3 linked regions of the Homo sapiens genome follow. The protein of the gene in region 1 purifies or fractionates together with the protein of each later gene. This does not show direct contact. Each region holds a gene or a part of one and is shown on either strand. Other genes may lie near its edges.

Region 1 (2,737 bases):
TATTAAACAAAATTAAATCTGTGTGAAGTTACCAATCCAATCAACACATGAAAATTCCAGGGGATTCCAATGCTGAACAATTGATCCAAGCCCCATAATTTCCCTCCCTTGCCCATCCTGTGCCCCTTGCCCTGTTCATGGCTCCCCCCTCACTCAAAGATTGGTCTCTGATCCTGGTGTTCTGATTCTCTCTTCCCACAATCAGTCGGAAGATCATAATAAAGAATTTTGACATTCCCAAGTCAGTACGTCCAAATGACGAAGTCACTGCAGTGCTTGCAGTTCAAACAGAATTGAAAGAATGCATGGTGGTAAGTAGAGGACTGGGGGCGTGACTTCAAAAGATAATTCAACTCCTTGATTATAAACATAATTTAATCTCTCACTTTAATAATGTACAGTGTACTTAATGAAACATTCTCACTTATGTTATGCTACTTGAGACTCAGAACAACTGTGGGAGCTTGGGACAGATGACTTCTCATTTTCCAGATGAAGAAGTTCGAATCCAGAGAAGTCTAGGATAAATAAGAAGGAAAGGAAGAAGGAATAGGAAGTGAGAAAGAGGGAAAAAGAAAAAAGTGTAAGAGCTAGTAGAGAAGCAGTTAGAGTCCTTCCAAGGTCCTGAGCATGTTTAGTTTAGGATGGAGGGAGGGGAGTTCTCAGAAGAGAAAGCAGCAACTCCACACCATAGGTTGAGGTGGGTGGGCAGAAGAGGACATGCAGGATATGACTCCTCCTCTCCAGTAAGCACTGAGCGACTCTACTGTCCTCTTGCCTTCTTCTGCTCCTTTGCTCTGGGTCACCAGAAGTGGACTCTTGTTCCAGCCTCCCCACCCTGACAAGGAGCTCGTAATCATCTCCTCCTTTTCCCCACGTTCAGAAGTCCAATCTCTGAACAAGGTCAGAGGTTTTCAAATGGTAATGTGTCTAAAACTCACTCGGGGATCTTGTTAAAATTCAGAGTTTCATTCAGCAGGTCTGGGGAGAGATTAGAACTTCTGGATTTTAACAGACGCCCAAGGTACACCAAGGCTGTGCCCAAAGGATCACATTTTTGAGCAGCTTGGGATTAGAGCATTATCCCTCCTGTCTAGCTGCCAAGGGCCAGAAGTCAAATAGACTTATGCAGTTATTAATCCACAGTGACTCTTCCCTGGGACACTGGTTGTGTGTCCTTTTCCTAGTCATTGATCTCAGATGTCACAAGCATGCAAACTGCCCCCACTACCTTTGTTCTAGGGCCAAGACCCATGCATCTCCCATCTCCCCTACTCCCTCCCCAGACCCTTCATGAAGGACACCTTCTATCAGGCAGCACAAGTATTTCCTTACAACATAAGTTTCCTAATTCAAATGAGACTTAAGGACAATGATTACATGTAAAACAACATTGAGAACATGAAGATTGCTATTCAGTCAACTGCATTCTAGAAATATCCCCACACCTGTAAAGAAAAATTCCTGGTCAATGAGCAAAGAATATCACAGCTGCTTTGTCAAATTTTTCTATTTTCAGTCCAAGAATCTGAGACATGTACACTAATTTGGGGTAGGAGCAAGGCTGAATCATAATTTTTCAACTCTGTATTTTGTTTATCACAAACACAGGTGAGAATGAGAATAAGAACATGTACATAATGTGTACATAAAATTTTTGTGAAAATGGTGGTTTCTGGTGGTAATAGTTAATGGTAGTGGTAGGTATAATAAGATATGTTTGAATCAATAAAATTACATGTGACATAATTTTGTGCTTTTGTGATTAATAAAAGTATGCTTTTAAGAATCATGCTAGTACTCTAAAATAAAGCAATCTTTTCAAAACCCACCTAAGCACAACTAAAAGAATAAGAAATCTTTAGACTAACTGACTTTGCAAACTAGAAATAATTTACAGGAAAGGAAATTTTGTTAATTCTAGTCAACAAATTTTTATTTGTGGCTTCATTTTTCAAAGTATAACTATTTTTAAATTTTTATTAAAATATATTTATATAACTATAAAATTCTTACCATCTAATCCTCATTTTTTATCATTTATAATGTTTTCTGTAACTGAATTTTTGAAAAAGTGAGGTTTAGACTCATATTTATTTATTTTAGAATTAGAATAGAATATACCTACAATCGTATATTTGAATATAAAGATTGCATAATCCTTTAAAGCTGAAGGAAACTTGTGGCAAAAACAATGCTTAAACATTTTTGTGCTACAGGCCATTTCGTTGGTTTCATGAAGTTTATGAAACATTTATCAGAAAATTGCTTCTAAATGTATAAAGTGCATTGGATTACAGAGAGAAACTACCACATTGAGTAACAGTGACTAACTTGTAAAAAATAAATTTGTGATGCAGTAAGGTATGTGTTTCTTTATGCACACATTAGCTGGGAAAGCAATACATTTAAAATATAGAAGAGTTGAATTTTATTCTATGAACACATTATCTGTGTGATGGATGTTGTTACTTAGCTTGAAGAAGTACATTAAACTGCACTGGTCTTTGGCAACACGTCCCACGTGCCATGCTAGGCATGCAACGGATTCTGATCTTTTATTGTACAAGTGGTGTAAATTCTGATTCATGACGATATGTTGTTGCTAATGTAACAGAAAGGTAAACAAGGCCGGGCACAGTGGCTTGTGCCTGTAATCCCAGCACTTTGGGAGGCCAAAGTGGGCAGATCACCTGAGGTCAGGAGTTCGAGACCAGCTTGGCCAACATGGTGAAAC
Region 2 (3,656 bases), on another chromosome or scaffold:
AGCAGCCATTTATAGCGGGACTATTTGACAAAGTGGGTGAGGCCCTTAGGCTAGATATCCAATGCCAAAATTATTAGGGCTTTTCTCAAATGGGATTTACCACCTTTTTGGCCTACTGCTGCTCCATGACAACAGGGGCCAGGGCCACTTCTTCCCCTTGGCCATCTTTCCTTTTGGCATCTGGGGCGGCTAGAGGAGAGAGGCTGCTGAAATGTCTCATCTTCAAGGAATCCTTCCCTCACCACCTGTTCCCCCACACTAGGTCAGAGACCCTTACTGACATGCTGTCATAGCACTCTATTCTACTTGAAAGGCATCTACTAGTTACAGTTAAATAATGGGATGTGCGATCATTTATTTGATTTTTGTCACTGCCTCTCCTTGGACTCTAAACTCCAAAGGACAGTGATTATATTTTGTTAATTGCTATGTCCTAACGCCTAATATGGTGTCTGGAATGCAGGAAACTTTCAATAAATATTAATACTTGGGCTGAGCGCAGCGGCTCATGCCTGTAATCCCAGCAGTTGGGGAGGCTCAAGCGGGCAGACCACCTGAGGTCGTGAGTTCAAGACCAGCCTGGCCAACATGGCAAAACCCCATCTCTACTAAAAATACAAAAATTAGCCAGGTGTGGTGGCGGGGTCCTGTAATCCCAGCTACTCACGAGGCTGAGGCAGGAGAATCGCTTCAACCCGGGAAGTGGAGCTTGCAGTGAGCCTAGATTGCGCCATTACATTACAGCCTGGGCGACAGAGTGAGACTCCATCTCAAAAAAAAATTAGGCCAGGCATGGTGGCTCATACCTGTAATCCCAGCACTCTGGGAGGCTGAGGTGGGCGGATCATGAGGTCAAGAGATTGAGACCATCCTGGCTAACACGGTGAAACCCTGTCTCTACTAAAAATACAAAAAATTAGCCGGGCATGCTGGCAGACGCCTGTAGTCCCAGCTACTCGGGAGGCTGAGGCAGCAGAATGGCATGAACCCGGGAGGTGGAGCTTGCAGTGAGCCGAGATTGTGCCACTGCACTCCAGCCTGGGCAACAGAGTGAGACTCTGTCTCAAAAAAAAAAAAAAAAATTCATAGTTGTTGAATGCATGTTTGAGCTGAGCCTGAAAGTTTTACCAGGCAGTAGAAACTGTAAAGAACAACCTAGTGGCTTGAAACTGCTTGGCATATTCAGAAACAGTGAGAAGTTAGGGGTGTGGTGTGGTGGGAAGAGACACCGATGAGTTAAGCAAGAGCAGCAGTTGAGTGCAGATCATAAGAATCTTAGAGAGCCATGTAGGTTGAGTGGTAAAATGCACAGAAAATTGACCATTTTAATCATTTTGAAGTATATAGTTCAGTGGAATTTTGTCCACTAAATGTGCCACCATCATCATTATCTAGTTCCAGAAGGTTTTTTTTCACCCCAAGAGGAAGCCTCATATCCATTAAGCAGTCACTCCCCTTACCCTCTCCTCAGCCCCTCACAACCACGAATCTGCCTTCTTTCCCCATGGATTTGCCTGTTCTGGGCATTTCCTATAAGTGGACCCATATCTTACATGCTCTTTTGTGTCAGGTTTCTTTCACTTAACATAATCTTGAAGTCCATCCATGTTGTACCATGTATTAATATCAGTTCTTCATTCCTTTTTTTTGGTTTTTGAGAAGGAGTCTCTCTCACTGTCGCTCAGGCTGGAGTGCAGTGATGAGATCTCGGCTCATTGTAACCACCGCCTCCCAGGTTCAAGCGATTCTCCTGCCTCAGCCTCCCAAGTAGCTGGGATTACAGGCACCCACCACCACGCCCAGCTAATTTTTTGTATTTTTAGTAGAGACAGGGTTTCACTATGTTGGCCAGGCTGGTCTCAAACTCCTGACCTCATGATCCGCCCACCTCAGCCTCCCAAAGTGCTGGAATTACAGGCATGAGCCATTGCACCTGGCCTCTTCATTCCTTTTTATGGCTGAATAATATTCTATCATATGGATAGATCATATTTCATTTTACCATACATCAGTTGATGGACATTTGGGTTGTTTTCATCTTTTGACTATTGTGAATAGAACTTCTATAGACATTCGCTGGGCGTGGTGGCTCACACCTGTAATCCCAGCACTTTGGGAGGCCGAGGCAGGTGGATCACGAGGTCAGGAGATTGAGAACATTCTGGCTAACACGGTGAAACCCCATCTCTACTAAAAATACAAAAAAATTAGCCGGGCGTGGTGGCAGGTGCCTGTAGTCCCAGCTACTCGGGAGGCTGAGGCAGGAGAATGGTGTGAACCCGGGAGGTGGAGCTTGCAGTGAGCCGAGATCACGCCACTGGACTCCAGCCTGGGCGACAGAGCCAGACTCCATCTCAAAAAAAAAAAAAAAAAAGAACTTCTATAGACTTTCATGTACAAGTTTTTGTTTGAATGTGTTTTTTTGTTTGTTTTTTGTTTTTTGAGACAGTCTCGCTCTGTCACCCAGGCTAGAGTGCAGTGGCGCCATCTCCACTCACTGCAACGTCCACCTCCTGGGCTCAAGTGATTCTCCTGCCTCAGCCTCCCCAAGTAACTGGGATTACAGGCACACACCACCACACCTGGCCAATTGTTGTATTTTTAGTAGAGATGGGGTTTCACCATGTTGGCCAGGCTGGTCTCGGACTCCTGACCTAAAGTGATCCAACTGTCTCAGCCTCCCAAAGTGTATTTGAATGCGTTTTTAATTCTTTTGGGTAAATTTGTAGGAGTGGAATTGCTGTGACATGTGATAACTCTGTAACTTTTTGAGGAAACACCAACATTTTCCAGAGTGGCCAAAGCATTTTACATTTCCACTGACAATGTCCAATTTCTCCACATCCTCAACAACACTTGTTATTTTACTTGTTTTTTTTATTATTCTATTTAATTATTATCCTAATGGGTATGGAGTGGTACCTCATCATGGTTTTGATTTGTGTTTTCCTAATGATTAATAACATTGAGCATCTTTTCATATGCTTGTTGGCCATTTCTTATCTTCTTTGGAGCAATGTTGGTTATATTTTTGGTATCATAACCAAGAAATCATTGCCAAATTCAGGATCAGAAAGAATTATACAAAGGAATCCATTGTTTTAAACGTAATTTATATTTTTTACTTATTTTTGTTTTATAGAGAGAAGGACTTTCAAAATTCAACAAGATCTATGAATTTGATTATCATCTGTATGGCCAGGTAGGTGCTAAAATATTTCTAAAATATTTCAATCATAAGCAAGAGAAAGTAGTCAGCCTCGTCATATGTAGAATATGTCGCTGTCTTAAGAATAACAACTGTTAACAACCTAAAGGTTCCTGGATATGGGGTGATCACTTTATAATTTATGAGGAGTTCTCTTTTTAATAAAATATGGTCCCATCTCAGCTCTTCATTACAAAAAAAAAAAGCTAATATACAATAGTTTGAGGAAAATTTAACTGATGCAAGAGGCGTCAGTTATACACCATATCATTAGAATGGTGATTGTATTCCTGTGACTTTTGGCTTTGAAGAGCTTATATTTATGTTTATTTCTTCCCAATCAGGTTTTTAAAAATGTCTTTAATAGAAGCTCCTCCCTCTCATTTTAATGATTTGGCAGAATAATAACTGCAAAAAGACTAACTGAATTTTGAATTTTGTCATCATT
Region 3 (3,656 bases), on another chromosome or scaffold:
ACATTTCTCCCCATTATTTGTTGAATCCTTCATTTTCTCACTGATCTCAGACTTTATCAAATGGAAGCCTGTGTCTTTGCACTCGAGTTCTTTCTGGGCATTCTGCTCCATTCCTGTCTGTCCAGCATCAGTCCACTCTCTCTCATTAGTGGTGTCATATGAGATAGTCACTGTTTGGTGAACACATTCCATCCCTTATTCTGCCTCCTTTTAAAAAAGATTCTTTGCTATTCTCAAGCATTTAATTCTTCCAAGTAATCTTCTAAGTCATTGGACAAATTCCTTACAAAAACACCATGGAGATTTCAGTTGAAATTGCATTAAATTTTTGTGTTAACTTACGGGAAGACTAACATCTGGACAATGTTTTGCCTGCCCTTGCTTATGTTGATTCAGATTTTTGATGTCCAGTGAGAGGCTTGGTTGGTGTATCAGGCTCTGCACAGGGAAGCTGTCCATTCTGTGGAGTTGTTGGTAACTGGCTGGTCCTGGGGACAGAGAACTGGCCCTCGTTCCTGACTGTTAAGGGAAGGATGATGGCTCTTGGCTTGAAAAGATCATCTTTATCATGTTAACACAGTTTCCTTCTGTTTCTAAGAGGTATTATCAGAAATAACACCTTGGATTTTGGCAAAGGCATTTTCAGCATGTAGAGAATGGATTTCCCTTTTTCTCTTTGACTTCTGATAGGATGAATGTTATCAATCAGCTTTCTAATGCCGAACGATCCTTGCATTCCCCAAACAACCTTACTTGATCGTGGGACAATTCCTTGTTACATGCTTTTAGATTAGATTTGGTAATATTTTATTTTGCAATTATTTCATCTAACTACTTAAAATTAAAATTAATCCACAGTGGGTTTTCTTTGAATCTAGCTCTGTTAGGTTTTGGTCTTTGGTTCATAAATGAATTGTCCAACTCCCTTTTGGATAATCAAAATGCTCAACATTTTTTCCTTTGCTTGATTTTCAGCTAATAGTGCTGGACCCCCCGGTGAGTATTTGGGTGCCCTCTGGCCCATGGCTCACCCCCTGGGGTGCAGCTGCCATGGCGCAGGGATACCAGTGTCCTCCTTGGCCTCTTGTAGAGTCTGTGTGCACTTGGACAGCACTGGGCTTCCAAGCCCCACCTAGCATTGCCAGCAGTCACCTTGTGTCCTGCTCAGGCTTAGGCTGTCAGTTCCTTCTTGGCCACAAGACTTGGACCGTTTCTCCCACCCACAGGTGGAAGAAAGTGATAACGAGTGGTCTGTTCCACACTGTTTCACCATCTACGCGGCTCAGAAAACAATCGTGGTGGCAGCCAGGTAAGGGTCTTCCATGTCTCCATCCTGAGCAGCCCTGGATGGAGGGGTGGGGACTTCCTCGCCATGAGCCTCTGAGTCCTCTGAGCTGTGAGGAGCCATGTAGCCTCATGGGGTTGTGCCCCCTTTGACTCTGAGCTCTGCTTCCAAGTCACACAACCAAAGGAGCAGCCTCGCCCTTGTCAGGGGCAGGGCTGCTTGCCAACCTGACAACACCCCACAAGTGGCAGGCCCCAGTGCTGTGGAGCCGCTCCCTCTGCCCTCCGGTTCACAGTGCCTCCAAAGACAGGACGGGTGAGTGGGCAGGCTCCTGTGGTCTCCCAGGGCACAGGCGCTTCCCCAACCCTCACGTCAAGAAGTGCCAGCAGCTAGTGGTCAAAGCCCCAACAGGGCAGCTTACACCCAGCCCAGCCAAACACTGCCTCCCAGTCCCAGTGTGGTATAGACTCACATGAGGCAGCCCAGGCTATGGCACAGAATCAAGTGGAAACAGCTCCCTCCTCCCCAGATAAGATCAACAGAAGGATGACACTGAGCTCATTTGGCGGCCAGGATGCAGGGGCCCCTGCATGGTCACCAGCACCACACTGTGCTCTGTGAGGAGTCTCAGCTCTGACTCTGCAGCGCCCTGGCCAGCATCAGAGCACAGGGCACTCAGTTCCCACCAGGAAATGCTCACTTAATCATGAACCAGGGCCAATCTTGCATTTCAGCATCACAGATGTAGAGAACATCATTTCAGGAACAAATACCCCTGCAGACCCCCTGTTCTAGGACCGGGGCCCTGCCCTGGCACCCACAACCCTGTCACAGCACCCTGGAGGTCAGGCTGATGCAGGTCCCTCCCAGCTCTCCTCCCTGCTATTCTCGCTGGAGGGGACACGTTTCCCAGTCCTCTCACCAGGCAGGACAAAGCAGAATGTGAGAGAACAGGTGCCCTGACGGCTCGCCCTCCCTTGAGGGCTGGGGCCCTACACAAGGAAGAGCAGAGCCACTGAGCCTTGCCCTTCTCCCTGCAGCACTCGGCTGGAGAAAGAGAAGTGGATGCTGGACCTGAACTCCGCGATCCAAGCAGCCAAGAGTGGCGGTGACACGGCCCCTGCACTGCCAGGCCGCACTGTGTGCACTCGTCCCCCCAGTGAGTGCTGGCCACAACCCCCCAGGAGACCTCCACTACACCTAAGGAGGCTTTTTTTGGAAACTGTTTTCCTTGGTCCCCATTGGCCCGCTAAGTTCCCACACAATCCCCTTCCACAAGGAATGTTCCAGGCTACGCCTCATGCCTGGGCGGGAAGAGGTGTCAATCAGCTGCTCTGGCAGAAGCACCTGTAGTTTTGCTCTCAGCCAGCAGCTGGCCTAGCACCAAGGGCTCCCCATTTCCCCAGGACCCCCGAGAGGAACCCAAGGGGTGGAAGTATTTGGCAAGCAGAGGCCACAGGGGGTTCCCCCTGAGACGCTGCTGACTTCTCCCCAGGATCCCCCAACGAGGTATCTCTGGAGCAGGAGTCAGAAGATGATGCTCGGGGTGTCCGCAGCTCCCTGGAGGGGCATGGCCAGCACCGGGCCAACACCACAATGCACGTGTGCTGGTACCGGAACACCAGCGTGTCCAGGGCAGACCACAGTGCAGCTGTCGAGGTACGACCGCATGAGCACCACCTCAGTGCATCTGGAATGTTCCCAGCTGTCTCTGCACTTGGCTGCTGAGGAGGGGACCTCAGGAGGGTACCAGCAGGCAGGCTTGGCCCCAGAGGACTGCCTCTTACTCTCCCCTTGGTAGAAGTTGGTATGGAAAGTGCCCCTCATCCAGTCAAGCCCTCTTTGAAAAGGGTGTTTCAGGTCTGGTGTCTGATGAAGTCCAGCAGGCGGGGCGTGTCCTCAGGGCCTGGAGCTGGTGTGTAGTGGAGCTGAGAAAAGCCTTCCCAGACACATCCCCTGCAGCCCCCCGTCCCAGTGCCTCCAAAACCCTTCACCTCGGGCTTGGAGCTCGAGGCTCTGCCCAGGCACCCTGCCATAGAAGGTTGTCAGCTCTATCTCACTGCATGGGCCCGGTCTGCCATTGTGGGTCACCAGGTTCCTCAGCCTGGTGCCCCCACACCCTTCCCCAAGCCTGCTGTCTTACTCCACCCAGAGCTCTTGTCTTTTTTGCTGTCTCCCCATAATTCACCCCAGCCACAATCGGCTGGGCAGGGGCTCAGGAGCTACCCCAGCACCCCCGTGAGGGGGCTGAGCCCGAGCCTCTCCCCTGATGACCCTGGGTAGGTCAGGGTGCAGCAGGTCCCTGACCTGGGCCCACCAGCTTATGGCCAGTCCAGGACACCTGAGATCTAAGCAGGGTCCTAGCTAGGCC

The links.
Region 2: the proteins of PIP (region 1) and TOP3A purify together in Homo sapiens (co-immunoprecipitation; 2 studies listed by BioGRID and IntAct, with this or other methods). This does not show direct contact.
Region 3: the proteins of PIP (region 1) and FARP2 purify together in Homo sapiens (co-immunoprecipitation; 2 studies listed by BioGRID and IntAct, with this or other methods). This does not show direct contact.

The regions. Positions count from the first base shown.
Region 1 is NC_000007.14:143,134,989-143,137,725, forward strand, and holds part of PIP (prolactin-inducible protein precursor), read left to right. Parts: intron 1-205; coding exon 206-311; intron 312-2,737.
Region 2 is NC_000017.11:18,308,428-18,312,083, reverse strand, and holds part of TOP3A (DNA topoisomerase 3-alpha), read left to right. Parts: intron 1-3,142; coding exon 3,143-3,202; intron 3,203-3,656. UniProt on the Homo sapiens protein: Releases the supercoiling and torsional tension of DNA introduced during the DNA replication and transcription by transiently cleaving and rejoining one strand of the DNA duplex.
Region 3 is NC_000002.12:241,488,736-241,492,391, forward strand, and holds part of FARP2 (FERM, ARHGEF and pleckstrin domain-containing protein 2), read left to right. Parts: intron 1-975; coding exon of another isoform or gene 976-996; intron 997-1,226; coding exon 1,227-1,309; intron 1,310-2,325; coding exon 2,326-2,444; intron 2,445-2,780; coding exon 2,781-2,944; intron 2,945-3,656. UniProt on the Homo sapiens protein: Functions as a guanine nucleotide exchange factor that activates RAC1. May have relatively low activity. Plays a role in the response to class 3 semaphorins and remodeling of the actin cytoskeleton.